Linked DNA regions of Homo sapiens: region 1 is linked to region 2. The links come from fine-mapping of genetic effects on gene expression. A gene starts in region 2. The other region holds a variant in brackets. All regions are shown on one strand. Distances are between the middles of the regions. Region 1 holds the start of DPEP2 (dipeptidase 2). Region 2 holds the start of DUS2 (dihydrouridine synthase 2).

Region 1 (9,977 bases), 25 kb after region 2:
CATCTCAAAAAAAAAAAAAAAGTTTCTTGGATGAGCTGGGATTCCTAGAGCTTGAAACTCCCATGAATGAACGTCATCCCAGGGGAGCTATGACCAAGCCTTTCATCACTTATCACAACAAGCTGCACATGAACTACTCTAGAACTCTACCATAAGATGCTAGTGGTTGGTGGCATTGACCAGGTTTATGAAATTGCATTCCAGTTCTGGAATGAAGGAATTGATTTGACGTAAAATCCTGAGTTCAGCACCCCTGAGTTCTACATGGCCTAGACTATCACAATCTCACGGAAATCACGGGGAAGATGGTTCCAGGGATGGTGAAGCATAATACAGGTAGTTACAAGGTCACCTACTACCCAGATGTCCCAGAGGGATAAGCCTGCAATATTGACTTCACCCTACCCTTCCGGAGAATCAGCATGATAGAAGAGCTTGAGAAAGCCCTGGGGGTGAAGCTGCCAGAAAATAACCTATTTGAAACTGAAGCAATTGGCAAAATTCTTGATAATATCTGCGTGCAAATGCTATTGCGTGCCCTCCACCTAGGACCACAGCCAGGCTCCTTGACAAGCTTGTTGGGGGAGTTCCTGGAAGTGATTTGCAACAATTCTACATTCATCTGTGATCACCCCCAGATAATGAGCCCTTTGGCTAAATGGCACTACTCAAAAGGTCTGACCCAGCGCTTTAAGCTATTTGTCATAAAGAAAGCGATAAGCAATGCCTACACTGATCTAAATGATCCTATGCAGCAGTGGCAGCTTTTTGAAGAACAGGCTAAGGCCGCAGGTGATGATGAGGCCCTGTCCGTAGATGAAAACTTTGTTGCCGCCATGGAATACAGGCTGTCCCCCACAACTGCCTGGGGCATGGTTATTGACCGAGTCACCATGTTTCTCACAGATTCCACCAGCAACTCGGAAGGCTGAGGCAGGAGGATTGCCTGAGCCCAGGAGTTTGAAGTTTCAGTGAACAACACAGTGAGACCCTGTCTCTAAAAGGAAATTTTTTTTTTTTGAGACAGAGTTTCGCTCTTGTTGCCCAGGCTGGAGTGCAGTGGCACGATCTCAGCTCACTGCAACCTCCGCCTCCCGGGTTCAAGCGATTCTCCTGCTTCAGCCTCCCAAGCAGCTGGGATTACAGGTGTGCACTGCCACACCTGGCTAATTTTTGTATTTTTTATAAAGACGGGGCTTCATCATGTTGCCCAGGCTGCTCTCGAACTCCTGAGCTCAAGCAATTCACCTGCCTTGGTCTCCCAAAGTGCTAGGATTACAGGCGTGAGCCACCATACCCAACCTTTTAAAATTTTTTTCTTTTCTTTTCTTTATTCCTTCCTTCCTTCCTTCTTTTCTCTTTTTTTAATCTTACAAAAAATGTTTCGGAAAAGGTATTTTATTTTTAAGACAGGGTCTTGCTCTTTCCCAGAGGCTGGAATGCAGTGGAGCGACCATAGCTCACTGTGGCCTCTAACTTCTGGGCTCAAGCAATTCTCCCACCTCAGCCTCCTGAGTAGCTGAGACTACAGACATGTGCCACCATGACCAGCTACTTTTTAAAAAATTTTTTTGTAGAGAAGGGGTCTCACCATGTTTCCCAGGCTGGTCTTGAACTCCTGGCCTCAAGCAATCCTCATGCCTTGGCCTCCCAAAGTGCTAGGATTACAGGCATGAGCCACCATCTCTTGTCCCCTGAGATACTTTTAATGGCCTTGCTGGATCCAGCTCCTGCACCCCAGGGCCCTCCTGCCTCCTCCCCACCCTCGGCTGATGGCACTACCTCAAGGACATGGGATAGCATGCAGCCTTCTGTCCCAGATCCTCTGTACTGTCTGAAATCAGGCAGAACCCAGCTGCAAGAGGAACTCAATGGTACACATGGGACCCAAGTCATCAATCGTCTCCATCAGAAAGCAACCCAGGGCCAGGCACAGTGGCTCAGGCCTGTAATCCCAGCACTTTGGGAGTCCAAGGCGGGTGGATCACCTGAGGCCGGGAGTTCAAGGCCAATGTAGTGAAATCCCGTCTCTACTAAAAATACAAAAATTTGCTGGACATGGTGGTGCATGCCTGTAGCCCCAGCTACTAGGGAGGCTGAGGTTGGAGAATTGCTTGAACCTGGGAGGCGGAGGTTGCAGTGAGCCAAAGTGGCACCACTGCACTCCAGCCTGGGCAACAGAGCAAGATCCTGTCTCAAAAAAAAAAAAAAAAAGAAAAGAAAAAAGGCCGGGCGCAGTGGCTCATGCCTGTAATCCCAGCACTTTCAGAGGCCAAGGCTGGTGGATCACCCGAGGTCAGGAGTTCGAGACAATCCAGCCTCATCAACATGGTGAAACCCCATCTCTACTAAAAAAAATACAAAAATTAGCCAGCCTGGTGGTGCATGCCTGTAATCCCACGTACTTGGGAGGCTGAGGCAGGAGAATCGCTTGAACCTGGAAGGTGGAGGTTGCAGTGAGCCGAGATCGTGCCCTCGCACTCCAAAAAAAAAAAAAAAAAGCACCCCAGGAATGTTGGACAGAGAGGCTGGCGGGGTAGGGGTTGGTTGGTAAGGCTTGAGCAGAAGGTTCTAGATGCATTCAGGAGATAAAGATGCATTTGGGGTTATTGCACTTCTCCTAGAAACATAAACATTGACTTCCTTTTGTGGAAGAAAAATGTTATGTTAGCTATTTGACGTTTCAGGAAGGGTGGCTTCAGCTTGGTGATTGGAGGATGTTTGTCTACAGTGGCCAGGCTGCTTTCTGGCTTGGAAGACTATTGTTTCTTGGGAATTGTCTGTATCAGACATCATGGGAGCAGATCCAGGGCGACATCAAAGGGAAGCATGAGTCTCCAGGACCAGAGGGGCTTGGATGCAGATGATCATCATCTGGGCACTGCTGGATACTGAGTAAGCCCCAGCTGCACCCCACCTCTGCGCTCTGAGCATGGGAGGCAGCCTGTGCAGCTATAACTCAGCCTGACTTTTTCCTTCCCTGCATACTCTTGAAATACACTGGAGATGAGTAGGGGCGAGTGAGCTGCACACCAGAATAAGTTTGGTCCTTGGAGCAAACTGTTTCTACTGCTGCCTCCTCTGCAGGTCTTGATTTATGCAAACACTGCATAGAAGAGGAAGTAGAGGGAAAAGCTGTTCACCCACCTACTCCTTCCTGGTAGCAAGATTTCCTATCCTGGCCTTGCCTCAACAGCCCTACCAATTGGAGGCTGAGGTTGTGCCAAGGCTCTATGGGGGGACGTAGCATCACTGAGGTGGCCAGATTTTGGAGGACAGGAAAGTTTGTGCTATTTGCTGAGACTGGAGAGGCTGGTGAGAGCAGACTCTCCATGAGTTGAAAGCCAAAGAAAGAAATTCGGTAGATTTCTGCAATGAGAAGCCACGGAAGAACTTCAGGCAGGAGGATGCATTGGATCTTGTTTTCGTTTTGTTAGAGATGGGGTCTCACTCTGTCGCCCAGGCTAGGGAGCAGTGGTGCCATCGTCTCTCACTGCAACCTTAAACTCCTGGGCTCAGGCGAACCTCCCACCTCAGCCTCGTAAGTACCTGGAACCACAGGCATGCACCACTTTTTTTTTTCCTTTTTCTTAGAGTTCTCATTATGTTGCCTAGACTGGTCTCAAACCTCCGGCTTCAAGAGATCCTCTCACCTCGACCTTCAAATTACTGGGATTACAGGCATGAGCCACCATGTCCTACCAGACTTTGTTAAAAGAGGAACAGGCCAGGCATCGTGGGCTCACATGAACACTCATGCCCCAGAAGTAAACAAGTGTTAGCCAACCAGGAGGCCTATCCTCCCCCTAACCTCACCCAAAGCCATCTCTGTGCCCTCCCCCTTGCAGGGGAAACAGCACACACTAGTGAAATCTTGTCTTAGTGTGTCCGGAATTGGTGGGTTCTTGGTCTCACTGAGTTCTAGAATGAAGCTGCAGACCCTCGCAGTGAGTGTTACAGCTCTTAAGGTAGCGCGTCTGGAGTTTGTTTCTTTTGATGTTTGGATGTTTGGAGTTTCTTCCTTCTGGTGGGTTTGTGGTCTTGTTGGCTCAGGAGTGAAGCTGCAGACCTTCGTGGTGAGTGTTACAGCTTTTAAGGCAGTGCGTCTGGAGTCGTTTGTTCCTCCCAGTGGGCTTGTGGTCTCGCTGGCTTCAGGAGTGAAGCTGCAGACCTTCGCGGTGAGTGTTAAAGCTCATAAAAGCAGCATGGACCCAAAGAGTGAACAGTAGCAAGATTTACTGCAAAGAGCAAAAGAACAAAGCTTCCACAGTGTGGAAGGGGACCAGAACAGGTAGCCACTGCGGGCTCAGGCAGCCTGCTTTTATTCTCTTATCTGGCCCCACCCACATCCTGCTGATTGGTAGAGCCGAG[T/G]GGTCTGTTTTGACAGGGTGCTGATTGGTGCGTTTACAATCCCTGAGCTAGACACAAAGGTTCTCCACGTCGCCACCAGATTAGCTAAATACAGAGTGTCGACACAAAGGTTCTCCAAGGCCCCACCAGAGCAGCTAGATACAGAGTGTCAGTTGGTGCATTCACAAACTCTGAGCTAGACACAGGGTGCTGATTGGTGTGTTTACAAACCTTGAGCTAGATACTGAGTGCCGACTGGTGTATTTACAATCCTGAGCTAGACGTAAAGATTGTCCACGTCCCCACCAGACTCAGGAGCACAACTGGCTTCACCCAGTGGATCCCGCACCAGGGATGCAGGTGGAGCTGCCTGCCAGTCCTGCGCCATGCGCCCGCACTCCTCAGCCCTGTGGTGGTCGATGGGACTGGGCGCTGTGGAGCAGGGGGCGGCGCTCACCGGGGAGGCTCCGGCCGCACAGGAGCCCATGGAGGGGGTGGGAGGCTCAGGCATGGAGGGCTGCAGGTCCCGAGCCCTGCCCCCCCGGGAAGGCAGCTAAGGCCCGGTGAGAAGTCGAGCGCAGCGCCTGTGAGCTGGCACTGCTGGGGGACCCAGTACATCCTCCGCAGCCACTGGCCCGGGTGCCAAGCCCCTCATTGCCCGGGGCCAGCAGGGCCCGCGGGCCGCTCCGAGTGCGGGCCCGCCAAGCCCACGCCCACCCGAAACTCCAGCTGGCCCGCAAGCGCCGCTCGCAGCCCCGGTTCCCACTCGCGCCTCTCCCTCCACACCTCCCTGCAAGCTGAGGGAGCTGGCTCTGGCCTTGGCCAGCCCAGAAAGGGGCTCCTACAGTGCAGCGGTGGGCTGAAGAGCTCTTCAAGTGCCGCCAAAGTGGGAGCCCAGGCAGAGGAGGCCCCGAGAGCGAGCGAGGGCTGTGAGGACTGGCAGCACGCTGTCACCTCTCATTAGGAGCTGCCAATATCAGTGGCACAGACCTGAGCACAGGGATAATTTGGGGTCAGAGGCTACAGTCTAAGTTAGCTAGATGCTGGCAGTGGGCAGAGTGGAAACAAGGCAGAGGCGGGGAAACTCAGGGCCTGACTCCAGAGCCGACCTTAAGTGTCACCGCTGATTCCTCCTTACTGTCTCCCACCAACCCTGCTTCAAAGCATCTCCAAATCCTGGGTTCAACTTCCAAACATGTCCCAGGAATGTCTCCTTCCTGTTCCCACTGCTTCTCCCCCTTACAGGCCCCTTCATTCCTTACCCCTCCTGATCTCCTGGCCTCCAGCCCATTCCCTACAGAAAAGCCATACCTATTTCTTCCATTTTAAAAAATGTGAGCTGGGCGCGGTGGCTCATGCCTGTAATCCTAGCACTTTGGGAGGCCAAGGTGAGTGGATCACGAGGTCGGGAGATCAAGACCATCCTGGCTAACACGGTGAAACCCCGTCTCTACTAAAAATACAAAAAATTAGCCGGGCGTGTTGGCGGGCACCTATAGTCCCAGCTACTCGGGAGGCTGCGGCAGGAGAATGGCCTGAACCCGGGAGGCGGAGCTTGCAGTGAGCCGAGATTGTGCCACTGCACTCCAGCCTGGGCGACAGAGCGAGATTCCATCTCAAAATAAATAAACAAATAAATATAAAAATAAAAAATTTGGCCAAGGGTCGGGGGTGGCTCATGCCTGTAATCCCAGCACTTTGGGAGGTCAAGGCAGGCGGATCACCTGAGGTCAGGAGTTCGAGACCAGCCTGGCCAACATGGCAAAACCCCATCTCTACTAAAAATACAAAAATTAGCCGGGAGTGGTGGCATGCGCCCGTAATCTCAGCTACTCGGGAGGCTGAGGCAGGAGAATCACTTGAACCCAGGAGGCAGAGATTGCAGTGAGCCAAGATTGCACCATTGCACTCCAGCCTGGGCAACAAGAATGAAACTCTGTCTCAGAAAATAATAATAATAATAATAATAATAATAATAATAATAATAATAATATCATTATCTATTTTTTTACAGACAGGGTCTTGCCCTGTCACCCAGGCTGGAATGCTATGGTGTTATCATAATGCTCACTGCAACTACAAGTGTGGGTGTGTCTGTGATTCGCTTTGTATGGTCCCCTCAAGGCCACATTTGAGGACTGAAGTTGCATATCATGGAAAATTGTGTTGTCTGGCTTATCTCCTACAGAGACAGTGCTCACTTTTACTGGCTCAACTCAGCCTGCCTCTGCTGAGCTAGCAGGTACCCCAAGTCCCAGGAGGTCAGACATTCGGGCTCTGGAGAGAAGCTTAAAAAAAAATGCAAAAAGTTGGCCGAGTGCGGTCGCTCACACCTATAATCCCAGCGCTTTGGGAGGCCGTGGTGGGTGGATTACCTGAGGTCAGGAGTTCAAGACCAGCCTGAACAAAATGGAGAAACCCCATCTCTACTAAAAAATACAAAATTAGCCAGGTGTGGTGGCACATGCCTGTAATTCCAGTGACTTGGGAGGCTGAGGCAGGAGAATCACTTGAACCCAGGAGGTGGAGGTTGCAGTGAGCCAAGATCACATCATTGCCCGCCAAGATCACATCATTGCCCTCCAGCCTGGGCAACAGGAGCAAAACTTTGTCTCAAAAAAAAAAGAAAAAAAATTCAAAAAGTTGAATTCTCCTCACCTACTCTGTCAGCTGTTATTTATTTATTCCTACCTACCCCTTCCTTATTTTTACATTTTTCAAACTGACAAATAATAATTGACCAGCCTGGGCAATATAGTGAGACCCTGTCTCTAAAAAAAAAAAAAAAAATAGCCGAGTGTGGTGGCGAGTACCTGTAGTCCCAGACTCGGGAGGCTGAAGTGGGAGGATTGATTGAACCTGAGAGGTTAAGGCTGCAGTGAGCTGAGACTGCACCACTGCAGTCCAGCCTGGGTGACAGAGCAAGACCTTATCTCAAAAACAATAATAATAATAATTTGCACATATTCATGGGGTACATAGTGATTTTTGTTGTTGTTGTTGTTGTTGTTGTTGTTGTTTGGCGGGGGGAGACAGGGTCTCGCTCTGTCATCCAGGCTGAAGTTCAGTGGCCCAATCTCGGCTCACTGCAACCTCTGCCTCCTGGGTTGAAACGATTCTCCCAACTCAGCCTCCCAGGTATTTGGGACTACAGGCGCGCACCACCAAGCCCGGCTAATGTTTGTATTTTTAATAGAGATGGGGTTTCCCCATGTTGGCCAAGCTGGTCTCGAACTCCTGACCTCAGATGATCCACCCACCTCGGCCTCCCAAAGTGCTGGGATCACGGGTGTGAGTCACTGCGCCCCACCCATAGTGATGTTTCAATACATATAACACATAATGATCAGGTTCAGTTCCTCATTCTTTATGCCCCTTACCTCTTGGGGCTCTCAGAATAAACTGTTTATCCCCAAAACCACATCTTTGACCTGGAGACCAGCAAATCCAAGAGCTTCTCCTCCCTCTCACTATTCCAGTGGGTGTGGGGAGCTGCTGACCAGCAGTGGATGATGGAGAGAAGGAGGGAAGCCTGTGTTGGGGTACCCAAACCACCCAGATCTGGGACACGCCCTACTGTTCTCTGAAGCAGAGCCCAAGAGGACTCACCATCTGCAGTGGGCCTCCCTATAGAACCCTCCAGCAGGGCTGGGCACAGTGGCTCACATCTATACTCCCAGCACTTTGGGAGGCCAAGGTGAGATCATCACTTGAAGCCAGAAGTTTGAGACCAGCCTGGGCAAGAAGGCAAGACAGTCTTTAATTAAAAAAATAAATAAAAAATAAAAAAAAAGCCCAGGTGCGGTAGCTCACTCCAGTAATCCCAGCATTTTGGGAGGCTGAGGCAGGCAGATTGCTTGAGACCAGGAGTTCGAGACCAGCCTGGGCAACATGGCAAAACCCCATCTCTACTAAACAACAAAATTTAGCCGGGCGTGGTGGCGCATGCCTGTAGTCCCAGCTACTCGGGAAGTTAAGGCACAAGAATCGCTTGAACCCAGGAGGTGGAGATTGCAGTGAGCCAAGATTGTGCCACTACCCTCTAGCCTGGGCAACAAAGTGAGACTCTGTCTCAAAACAAACAAAAAAAGACCCCCTTCGGCAGCAGTAGACGTGACAGTTAACCCACCTCGAGCACTCGGCCATCGATCTGCCTTCCTCCTGGACAGCAGACACTGGGCAACATCAAGTGTGCAGTCCCTAAAATACATCAAAGCTGGGATCACTTCCCCTCCTGGGTAGCTTGGGACCTCCAGTCCCTTTGGAAGAGTTGGTTCATTTTCTTTTTAGGAGGCCTTCTTGAATCTCTAGTCGTCGTCAGGCTTAGGTCACACTACCCATGCACTGATCAGCCCTGCCACGTGGGGGAGGCTCCAAAAAATGAAGCGGTTCCAGGGGTGCCAAGGTTCAGAGCAGAGTCTTGAGAGCCTGAGGGGCAGGAGGAGGCAAAGGTCTCTGAGGACGAAGGGGTTTGGCCACAGTCCCGGAAGATCTCAGGTCGTGGGGCTTCTGTGAGCGGGCACATCCCCTGTGCCTGTGTGATTGTGAGCTTGTGTGCTTGTGTGGTTGGGGGTCCTTCCTGGAGGAGGCATCTAGGTTGAGGGCCCCAGGCCGGGAATGGGGTGGGGCCTGTCGTCAAGGAAGGGACTCAGCCCTGGAGGTTTCTGTGAGAGCTCAAGCCACAGGAGCCACAAGATAAGAGGAGTGTGGCTGCAGAACCCAGGTGGCAGGGCTTTCCTCAGGCCCCTTACTCCTGACCTGGACGAGGCCGGGGCTTCCTCAAGGAGGTAGGAGGTATCCTGGCCAGCAGATCAGCCAGAAGCTCTAGGAGGAAGGTGCTGCGGCCGGGGACTCTGCTGCCCTAGACAAGACTTCATTTCCTTCCATGCAGATGGCTGTGTGGGTTCCTGCTCTGTTGAGTGAATGTTCCCTGGCAGTGGCCAGATGCTTGCTGCGCTCTCATCCCTCCACTGGGGTCCTGGGGAGGTGTGGCAGCTCCTTAGGAAGGAGCTCTTTCCTAAGGCTGATTGGAGAATGTGCGGTCGGGGCGGGGGGCGGAGGAGTGCTCCTGACAGGTCCTAGTAGCTGGGAGATTCCCCAGAGTATAGGCTTGAGGGCCTAAGTTACGGGAGAGAGAAGGTCAGGGCCAGGGGGCCCCTTCCTGAATCCAGTCCACAGGGTTAACCCCTCATTTCCAGAGCCTATCTTCTCCCCCACACCCACCCACACAACCCAGCACCAGGAAATCCAGAGCCCAGAGCACTGTGGTCACAGGGACACATGTGGCCCTGGGTGTGGCCGGGACACGTTGCAGGCGGTTGGGGACATGACGTGGTCTGCAGATCTCCCAGGGCAGGGCAGAGGGCCACTGTTTGGGGGAAGCACCCCAGGCCCTCTCTCTTAGAGAGAGAGCCTAGGGGCAGCAGAGGAGCCACCTGGGTCGGCCCCCTGGGGACAGTGGGAGGAGTAAAAGGGAGGGTGGAGGGCCCTAAGACAGGCCGCGAGTGGGCGCCCAGGACAGGGATCCGCCCAGCCGGCGGGAGCGCCCTTGGGGATGACGGCGGGAGGGCTGGGCGCCCCCTGGTGGCCGTACTGGGCGGTGCCGCCGCTCTCCGCACATCCTTCGC
Region 2 (9,977 bases):
AGCTGGGATTACAGGTGCCCACCACCACGCCCAGCTAATTTTTTGTATTTTTTTTTAGTAGGGATGGGGTTTCACCATGTTGGCCAGACTGGTCTCAAACTCCTGACTTCGTGATTCACCCGCCTTGGCCTCCCAAAGTGCTGGGATTACAGGTGTGAGCCACCGCGCCTGGCCTCTAACGTCTATTATTATGTTGTTATATCGACAAACATCTGCTAGCTCTTTTAAGATCAAGGCAGCGTGTGAGGTATAAAGACACGGAAAGCACTAAGCTCTTAACCTCAAAGAGCTTCTCAGCTCTACAACTGCCATCATCTATCAACTGAACCATGACAACAGTCTCCAAACCAGTCTCTCTGCCTCCAGGCTTATCACTTCCAATCCATGCTCCTTCCAGCCAAAGGGCTCTTTCCAAACGCAAAGATATGATACGCAAAACATGATAGTTCCATTTCTGGACGCCTTCCCTACTGCCTGTAAAATTAAGTCTACACTCTTTAACACAGTAAATATAAGGTCTGGTCTCCACCTTCCATAGAAGCCTCTTTCATCACCTGCCTCCTGCCCTCAGAACTCCCCCATGCTAAGCTTCAGCTATTCTTAAATATTTCTAGTTCCCCAGCCTGGCCTGCTCTCTCTCAGTATGGGATCTCTGAACAAGCTGTCCCTGCCCAGGGGCCACGTCCCTATTCTTCCACCTGGCTGACTCCCTGTAGACTTTTAGAACCTCATCACCTCCTCCTGGAAGCCTTCTCTGACCAACATCTCCCAAAACAGGGTAAAGGCATCTCTGAGCTCATTCCTGTCCTGGCATGGAGCTATCCTGGCAACTATTAATAGAAGAGCAACTATCTGTCAATATGCCTTCTTCACTGTAAGGTGAAAATAGGCACTGTGGCTTGTTCATCACCAGATCCTCATCAGAGAGCATACAATCTGGCATATGGTAGATGCTTAGTGTTTGCTGTAAAAAGAAGTTAATGGCAGCCGGGTGAGGTGGCTCACGCCTGTAATCCCAGCACTTTGGGAGGCCAAGGCAGGCGGATTACCTAAAGTCGGGAGTTTGAGACCAGACCAGCCTGACCAACATGGAGAAACCACGTCTCTACTAAAAATACAAAATTAGCCGGGTGTGGTGGCGCATGCCTGTAATCCCAGCTACTTGGGAGGCTGAGGCAAGAGAATCACTTGAACCCGGGAGGCGGAGGTCACAGTAAGCTGAGATCATGCCACTGCACTCTAGCCTGGGCAACAAGAGCAAAACTCCATCTCCAAAAAAAAAAAAAAACAAGAAGTTAATGGACCAAGTGCAACAAGAGCTATGATCCACTCCATGCTTCAGTCACAGAAGAACTCTATCCCAGCCAAAGTGCATTTAAAGTGCTTTGTTATCACTCAAGTTTGGTTTTAGAGGAGACGAATGACTACTCCAATCTCTGGCTTACCCAGTAAAGGACTACAAGCCCTTTGGCCAACTTGCATGGAGCCATCACTTGAGTGAACAAGATTCACATAAGAAAGCAACAGAAGAGGTTGAGCCCAATTCTGGATACTGATTAGGAAATAATCTGCAGGCAACAAGGATTCATGAATGGCTTTTGAGTCAAAGGGTAACATGGCCATAGCTGTGCTTTTTTTTTTTTTTTTTTTTTCAGATAGACTCTTGCTCTATCACCCAGTCTGGAATGCAATGGCACAATCTCAGGTCACTGCAACCTCCGCCTCCCGGGTTCAAGCAATTCTTCCACTTCAGCCTCCCGAGTAGCTGGGATTACAGGTGCCTGCCACCATGCTCAGCTAATTTTTGTATTTTTGTAAAGAAAGGGTTTCACCACGTTTGCCAGACTGGTCTTGAACTCCTGACCTCGTGATCTGCCCGCCTTGGCCTCTCAAAGTGCTGGGATTACAGGCGTGAGCCACCACACCAGGCCTAGCTGTGCTTTAATAACATCACTCGGGAAACAGAAGGTAGACCAGAGGGTAAAAAACAAAGAGCAGGTAGGGAGCTGGATGAGAAGGAAGGTCAAAGGGTCCAGGAATACTATAGTGATAATGACTGAAAATATGATTACCTGCGCACAGCCCTGCTACAGGTGGGAAAATGGAGGAACAATAAAGTAATACCAATAGCACTTTTTATTGCTGTAATGCTTTGCAATTCCCAAAGTGCTTCATTTATAACTGTGATTCTCAAGCCTAGTTACATCTGGAGAGGTTTCTAAAAATACCAATTTCTCGGCTGGGCACAATGGCTCACATCTGTAATCCCAGCACTTCGGGAGGCCAAGGCAGGCAGATCAACTGAGGTCAGGAGTTCGAGATCAGCCTGGTCAAAATGGCAAAACCTCATCTCTACTAAAAATACAGAAATTAGCCGGGTTTGGTAGCACGTGCCTGTAATCCCACCTACTGGGGTGGCTGAGGCAGAAGAATCACTTGAACCTGGGAGGCAGAGGTTACAGTGAGTCGAGATGGCACCACTGAAGTCTAGCCTGGGTGACAGAGCAAGACCTTGTCTAGGCCTTAACCCAAATCAATTAAATCAGAATGTAAACTCCACAAGGGCAGGGATTTTGGCTGTTTTCCTCACTACCAATGCCTGGCACATGCGTGGTGCTCAGGAAGTATTTGTTGAATGAATGATTGAATGAATGAATGAATATACCATTATTAACTGAGATCCAAGGAACACACCAAGCTCCTGATCTCAGGAGCTTAGATTTTTTTTCACAATAAGGATACCTTTCCTATTTCTAAAGCACTACTTATAAAAATATCTCAGAAAACATTTAGAAGTTAATCAATGTCCTCTGTGAGTGAGGGGGAAAAAAGGTAGGCAGTGTCTAGTGATGTGACAAGAAGAAATTAGTGGCCACGGACACAGACAGGCTTAGGCAAGCTCTAACTCCTGTGAAATTTTGAGGTAATCATATTGTAAGGACTCAAGCATAATGAGAAAACAACTATATATTAACCAGCTACCCTACCCTGGATATTTGAACAAAACCCAAAAACCCAAATGCATATACATACCTATTATTTTGTTCTGATACTTCAGGATTACTTTGATATATGTGTTCTGGCTTTGTACAGAGTAATTCTTTGTTTGATATCTGAAAAACAGTGGCACATGGAAATGGATGAAACCTGTTGGGACAAACATCCAAGGGACCTTTTTTTTTTTTTTTTGAGACAGAGTCTCGCCCTGTCGCCCAGGCTGGAGTGCAATGGTGCGATCTCGGCTCACTGCAACAACCTCCGCCTCCCGGGTTCAAACGATTATCCTGCCTCAGCCTCCCGAGTAGCTGGGATTACAGGCATGAGCCTGGCCCCAAGGAACTATTTGGATAAGGAGAAGCCCTGAGTTTGGAAAGAATCATAAAAGTAGCATAGAATTGGGCCGGGCACAGCGGCTCACACCTGTAATCTCAGCACTTTGGGAGACCAAGGTGGGCAAATCATGAGGTCAGGAGTTTGAGACCAGCCTGCCCAACGTAGTGAAACCCTGTCTCTATTAAAAATACAAAAATTAGCTGGGAGTGGTAGCGCACACCTCTAATCCCAGCTACTCAGATGGCTGATGCAGGAGAATCCCTTGAACCCAGAAGGCAGAGACTGCAGTGAGCTGACATCGCACCACTGTACTCCAGCCTGGGCAACACAGTGAGACTGTCTATAAAAAAAAAAAAAAAAAAAGTATCCAGCCATTGTCAAATATGGTGGGAGGGAAAGGGCAAAATCACCCTTGTTTTAGAACCACTACCCTATCCAATGACTGTTCATTCACCCATCACTACTCAAAACTTTCTCTTCCTACTTCCAGATATTTTCTTGTGGAGAAAAAAAGCCTCTCTTCCTCTGATTTATCTGGTAACTCTCCAGAAAGTCTAATTGTGTAGCACAAGGGTAGAGTGTACTTAAAATTGTGAAAGTTTTTCCTCATACTATTCCAAAAAAAGCAAAGTTTTTATCTTTTCATTGGTATTTGATGAAACTAAAACGTTTTCTCCAGATGTTACGAACCTCCCAGAGAGTTAATCCATAAATATTTACCTTATCTCCCACCCCAGGCACTGCAAATTACAGAAAAGATCTGACACCCATTTTCCAGATCTGTTCAAGAAGTATCTGTTGGGCATGGTGGCTCACGCTTATAATCCCATCACTTTGGGAGGCCGAGGTGGGAAGATCGCTTGAGGCCAGGAGTTCGAGACCAGCCAGGCCTACATAGTGAAACCCTGTCTCTACTAAAAACAGAAAAAATTAGCCGGGCGTGGGTGGTGTACGGCTGTAGTCTCAGCTACTTGGGAGGCAGAGGCAGGAGAATCACCTGAACCCAGGAGGTGGAGGTTGCAGTGAGCCGAGATTGCGCCACTGCACTCCAGCCTGGGTGACAGAACGAGACTGTGTCTCAGAAAAAAAAAAAAAAAAAGTGACTCGTATAGTTCTTGTTTTTACAACCCGAATATCTGAATTCAGGTAAAATATTCTGCCTGACCAGGGCTACATGATAAGCCACGTACTTGATCACTTTGTAGGGTCGCAGCACCCTTCTTACTACTATTTTAGGTAATTCAGGTTTCTGACGGGGAAGCCAGTGGAGCTGAGCGGGCTGCAAGAGGGGTGGGTTCTGGATGAGAAGTTGGGACGCGTGACGAGGGAGTAGAGAGTGAACCTTGGCTTAAAAGGAAGGAAAATAACTGTGAAGAAAAGATGACCCAACTTGAAATAAAACCTGAAGACCTTATCTCCCACTTGAGAGAGAGAAGAAGCTGAAAGCCATCAGCTTGCACTCTGGGCTCACAGACAGAGAGGGTGAGGGGTTGAGCCCAGATCTATGACTTCAGACCCCTGTCTCGGCCCCTAGGCCTGATCATTCATTCAAACTCTCAATAAACACGGATTACCAGACCCTGCGCAGGGAACACATCTGGGAAAACAGCTGCAACCTCGGATACCAGCACGGGACAAGCTATCTCAGGGCAATGAGGAACAACTAAAGAGAATCCCAGGAACCAGGTAACCAATCGCCAGAAGCCCTCCGCCCTCATGGTCCATTGGGTCAAGGCCCCACTGCCGCCTCGTATCGCCAGCCTCCAGTCCTGCCTCCACGACGCGCCCTTCCCCAAGGCTGGCCGGGTCTGGATGTCGCCATCCCCTATTCGGAGCTACAGACCTCGCAGCTGAACTCTTAAAAAGAACCTCGCTTCTTCCTCACGGTGCTCCAGCTCCACACACCGTACTGAGCCTCGCCAGCCACCGTACGCGAGGTCGCGGCGCGTCCGTGACGTCACTGATGTGCGCTTCTCCCGCACTAAGGGAAACATGGCTCTAACGCGGCCGGTGCGGCTCTTTTCCCTCGTGACTCGGTTGCTCCTGGCGCCGCGACGGGGCCTCACGGTCCGCAGTCCCGACGAACCCCTGCCGGTGGTGCGCATCCCAGTGGCTCTACAGCGGCAGTTGGAACAGCGGCAGAGCAGGCGGCGGAACCTCCCGAGGCCGGTGCTGGTTCGACCCGGACCGCTGCTGGTTTCGGCGCGGCGGCCGGAGTTGAACCAGCCGGCGCGCCTCACACTGGGCCGTTGGGAGCGCGCGCCGCTAGCCTCTCAAGGCTGGAAGAGTCGACGCGCGCGTCGGGACCACTTCTCCATCGAGCGCGCGCAACAGGAGGCGCCAGCGGTGCGAAAGCTCTCGTCTAAGGGCAGCTTTGCTGACCTGGGCCTGGAGCCCCGTGTGCTGCACGCACTACAGGAGGCTGCGCCTGAAGTCGTTCAGCCCACAACCGTGCAGTCTAGCACCATCCCCTCACTACTTCGCGGCCGCCATGTCGTTTGCGCCGCAGAAACCGGCAGTGGCAAGACTCTCAGCTACCTCCTGCCGCTGCTTCAACGGCTCTTGGGCCAGCCAAGCCTGGACTCCCTTCCTATCCCCGCGCCCCGAGGCCTGGTCCTTGTTCCTTCCCGAGAATTGGCCCAACAGGTGCGGGCTGTGGCCCAACCCTTGGGCCGCTCCTTGGGCCTGCTGGTGCGGGACCTGGAGGGAGGCCACGGCATGCGTAGGATCAGGCTGCAGCTGTCCAGACAGCCTTCAGCAGATGTGCTTGTGGCCACTCCAGGGGCTCTGTGGAAGGCCCTGAAAAGTCGACTGATCAGTCTGGAGCAACTCTCCTTCTTGGTGTTGGATGAGGCAGACACACTGCTGGATGAAAGCTTCCTGGAACTGGTGGACTACATCTTAGAGAAGAGCCACATAGCAGAAGGCCCAGCTGACTTGGAAGACCCCTTCAATCCCAAAGCTCAGTTAGTGCTGGTAGGAGCCACATTTCCCGAAGGTGTAGGCCAGTTGCTGAATAAAGTCGCCAGCCCAGATGCTGTCACCACCATCACCAGCTCCAAGCTCCACTGTATCATGCCTCATGTGAAACAGACATTTCTGAGACTGAAGGGAGCAGATAAGGTGGCCGAGCTGGTGCACATCCTCAAGCATCGTGACAGAGCAGAAAGGACTGGTCCCTCAGGAACTGTTCTGGTGTTCTGTAATAGCTCCAGCACTGTGAACTGGCTGGGATATATTCTGGATGACCACAAAATCCAACACCTAAGGTTGCAGGGGCAAATGCCAGCCTTGATGAGGGTAGGAATCTTCCAGTCCTTCCAGAAGAGCTCCCGAGACATACTTCTCTGCACAGACATAGCCTCTCGGGGCCTGGACAGCACTGGTGTGGAGCTGGTTGTCAATTATGATTTCCCCCCAACGCTGCAAGATTACATCCACAGAGCAGGGAGAGTGGGCCGTGTGGGGAGCGAGGTGCCAGGCACCGTCATCAGTTTTGTGACCCATCCCTGGGATGTGAGCCTGGTTCAGAAGATTGAGCTGGCGGCTCGCCGAAGGAGAAGTCTTCCAGGACTAGCATCCTCGGTGAAAGAGCCTTTGCCCCAAGCAACCTGATTTTGACAAATCTGATTAAAATGTGATGCTAGAACAGGGATCTTTCCCAGTATCTTGAGTGGGTGACCACACTTGTCAGTGGGAGGCTCTGGGCTGCCCTGTCGGCTCCTTGAGGGCGGGATGAACTGCTTTGTGACTTGGAAAGGTACGCTGCTGGCCAGCATTGGAGAAGAAGCTGCTGAGCATGGCTTTCTGTAGTCTTTAGCAAGACACAAGTGGATTTTGACTTTGTATCATGTCATGATTTCTAACAATAAATGATGTTTTTATGTGCCTCCCCTAAGAATAATTAGCACCGGGGCGGAATTCAGTAGTTTCTGAGGATTCATACACCAAACCTCCACATCTAGGACAAAGGCTCTTTCAGTTGATGTTTTCATTTATAAACATTTAGTTTGTATTTCCTGCCCCCAAAAAGGTATCCATTAAGCCCCCAGGGAAAGGAAAGGAAAGGAAATGTGACTAGCAGTAGACAGAGTTACTCTCTAACAATGCCCAAGACAAACGGGCGTCTTGGCGAAATCTCTGGAAGGTACTGGCAGAAAAGTAAAGGGTAGACGAACACAGAAGTTTTGCTTGTACATTTTCAGGTTCTGCCTTCTATCCCAACTCGGTAGCCGAGAAAGAGGAGAGATGATTAAACGGTTTTACAAAACTGGAAAAATAACCATATAGCATTTTCTTTATATATATATATACGTATATATATATATATATATATATATATACATACGTATATATATATATACACATACATATATATACGTATATATATATATGTATATATATATATACGTGTATATATATATACGTGTATATATATATGTGTATATATATATATACACAAAAAAAAATTACAAAAATCAACCCGGCGTGGTGGCACGCGCCTGTAGTCCCAGCTACTCGGGAGGCTGAGGCAGGAGAATCACTTGAACCTGGGAGGCGGAGGTTGCAGTGAGCCAAGATCATACCACTACACTCCAGCCTAGGGGACAGAGCAAGACTCCATCTCAAAAAAAAAAAAAAAAAAAAGCCGGGTGTGGTGGCTCACGCCTGTAATGCCAGCACTTTGGGAGGCTGAGGCAGGAGGATCACCTGAGGTCAGGAGTTTAAGACCAGCCTGGTAAACATGCGAAACCCCATCTCTATTAAAAATACAAAAAAATTAGCTGAATGTGGTGGTGCACGCCTGTAATCCCAAATACTTGGGAGGCTGAGGCACAAGAATGGCTTGAATTCTGGAGGCGAAGGTTTCAGTGAGCCAAAATTGCACTTCTGCACTCCAGCCTGGGTGACAGAGCTGATATTCTGTCTCAAAAAAAATAACAGAATCCTGAGCCCCACTCCAGATGGGATTAAGCTCTCTAAAGTTTGACCTGAGAATACTCTTTGTAAACTCCCCCAGGTGATACTTGGGCCCTCCCAAATTGATAAACCATTTGTCTATGCTGTACTGCCTTTCCCAGAGTCCCAGCAAATTCCTGTAAGGCTTTGTACCCCCACAAGACAAGAGGGATGCTTCCGGACAAGTACTCTCTCCAGAGCCTTGGAGAATCTGAGTGATCTCATGCTAGCCCTCCTGCCAGAACAGACTTCCCAGGAACCATCCCCTTGATATTTTACCTCCTACCACTCCCTGCAGGCCATCAATTAGCACCACACTAAAGCAACTTATGAGAGAAGGTGCTATGATTCTCAACCGGGGTGACCCAGTCTCCAAAGATCGGGCCGTCTCTACCTCCTGGGCATATCCCCTCTGCAATAACCCCACTAAATAAATGTCCCATGTTTGCTTTTTCAAGGCCAGTAATAGGGAGACCTCTCCTTAAGGTCATCTCTCTTTGGTAGGAAGTTCTTGGCCACACTGAACCAAAGGCTGCTCCTAGTGTGGTCCTGATCAGGCTAAGGGCAGAGTTGCCTGTTTCCTTTGAGTAGGACCAAATCGCCTTTTTTTAAATATAAAAAAAATAGACACAAGGTCTAGCTATGTTACCCACGCTGGTCTCAAATTCCTGGGCTCAAGAGATACTCCTGCCTCCACCTCGCAAAGTGCTAGGATTACAGGTGTGAGCCGCCACGCCTGGCCCTAATGACCTTTTGGTACCTCTCCACAGTGCTGACCTGGGCTGCTGCTGGGAGCTAAACCTCATCCTTTCATAGTGATAAGATTGTCATTGTTTGCCTATTTAAAGAGAGGGCAGTGTAATGATAAGGTTATGATTTTGTATTGTTATCTTTTTTTTTTTTTTTGAAACAGAGTCTTAACTCTGTCACCCAGGCTGGAGTGCAGTGGCACAATCTCGGCTCACTGCAACCTCTGCCTCCCAAGTTCAAGCAATTCTCGGGCCTCAGCCTCCTGAGTAGCTGGGATTAGAGGTGCACACCACCATGCCCGGCTAGTTTTTATATTTTTAGTAGAGACAGAGTTTTGCCATGTTGGCCAGGCTGGTTGTGAACTCCTGGCCTCAAGTGACCCGCCTGCCTCAGCCTCCCAAAGTGCTGGGATTACAGACATGAGCCAAGGCACCTGGCCAGTCATTTGGGATTCTTATCTTGTCATGAATTTGTTTGAATTTCATGTTAAAATAGGTTCATCTGTAGACGTGACATCTCACTCCTATAATCTCAGCACTTTGGGAGGCCAAGGCAAGAGGATCACTTGAGGCCAGGAGTTCCAGGTTACAGTAAGCTATGATGGTGCCACTGTATTCTAGCCTGGATGACAAAATGAGACCCTGTTTCTGAAAAAAGAATAAATTTTAAAAATAGAACCATCATTCGCACTTCATACAGTCATTTGGGAGCCTCATTTTGCCTTGGGGCACATTTAACATACCTCCAGTGTACATCACCTTTAAATGTGATGAGCTTGTCCTCACATTCTTAACAGCTATAATTCTGGAGCCCCAAATGAAGCCCTGCGGATCAGAATGCCTCTCTGCTACCTGTATGACCTTGGATGGACCCCTAACCTCTTGGCGTTCTTGAATCTTAGGTGGTAAAAATGTGAGGGTGCTATGAATTTACAT

What was found. PIP is the estimated chance that this variant, and not a neighbour inherited with it, causes the effect.
Region 1: its variant is fine-mapped to the expression of DUS2 in whole blood (TOPMed, PIP 0.92).

Annotation. Positions count from the first base shown.
Region 1 is chr16:67,993,366-68,003,342 of GRCh38, reverse strand. DPEP2 (dipeptidase 2) reads left to right here and starts at 3,859. Exons shown (of 11, transcript NM_022355.4): 1 at 3,859-3,968. It also overlaps the pseudogene KARS1P3. RefSeq lists an enhancer at 4,920-5,436 and a silencer at 9,768-9,977. The variant T/G (reference allele first, on the strand shown) is at 4,372.
Region 2 is chr16:68,018,551-68,028,527 of GRCh38, reverse strand. DUS2 (dihydrouridine synthase 2) reads right to left here and starts at 5,244. Exons shown (of 17, transcript NM_017803.5): 1 at 5,177-5,244; 2 at 3,034-3,113. It overlaps DDX28 (DEAD-box helicase 28), which reads left to right and starts at 5,296. Exons shown (of 1, transcript NM_018380.4): 1 at 5,296-7,612. The coding sequence starts at 5,326. The coding sequence ends at 6,948. RefSeq lists enhancers at 5,144-5,383, 5,094-5,844, 5,845-6,595.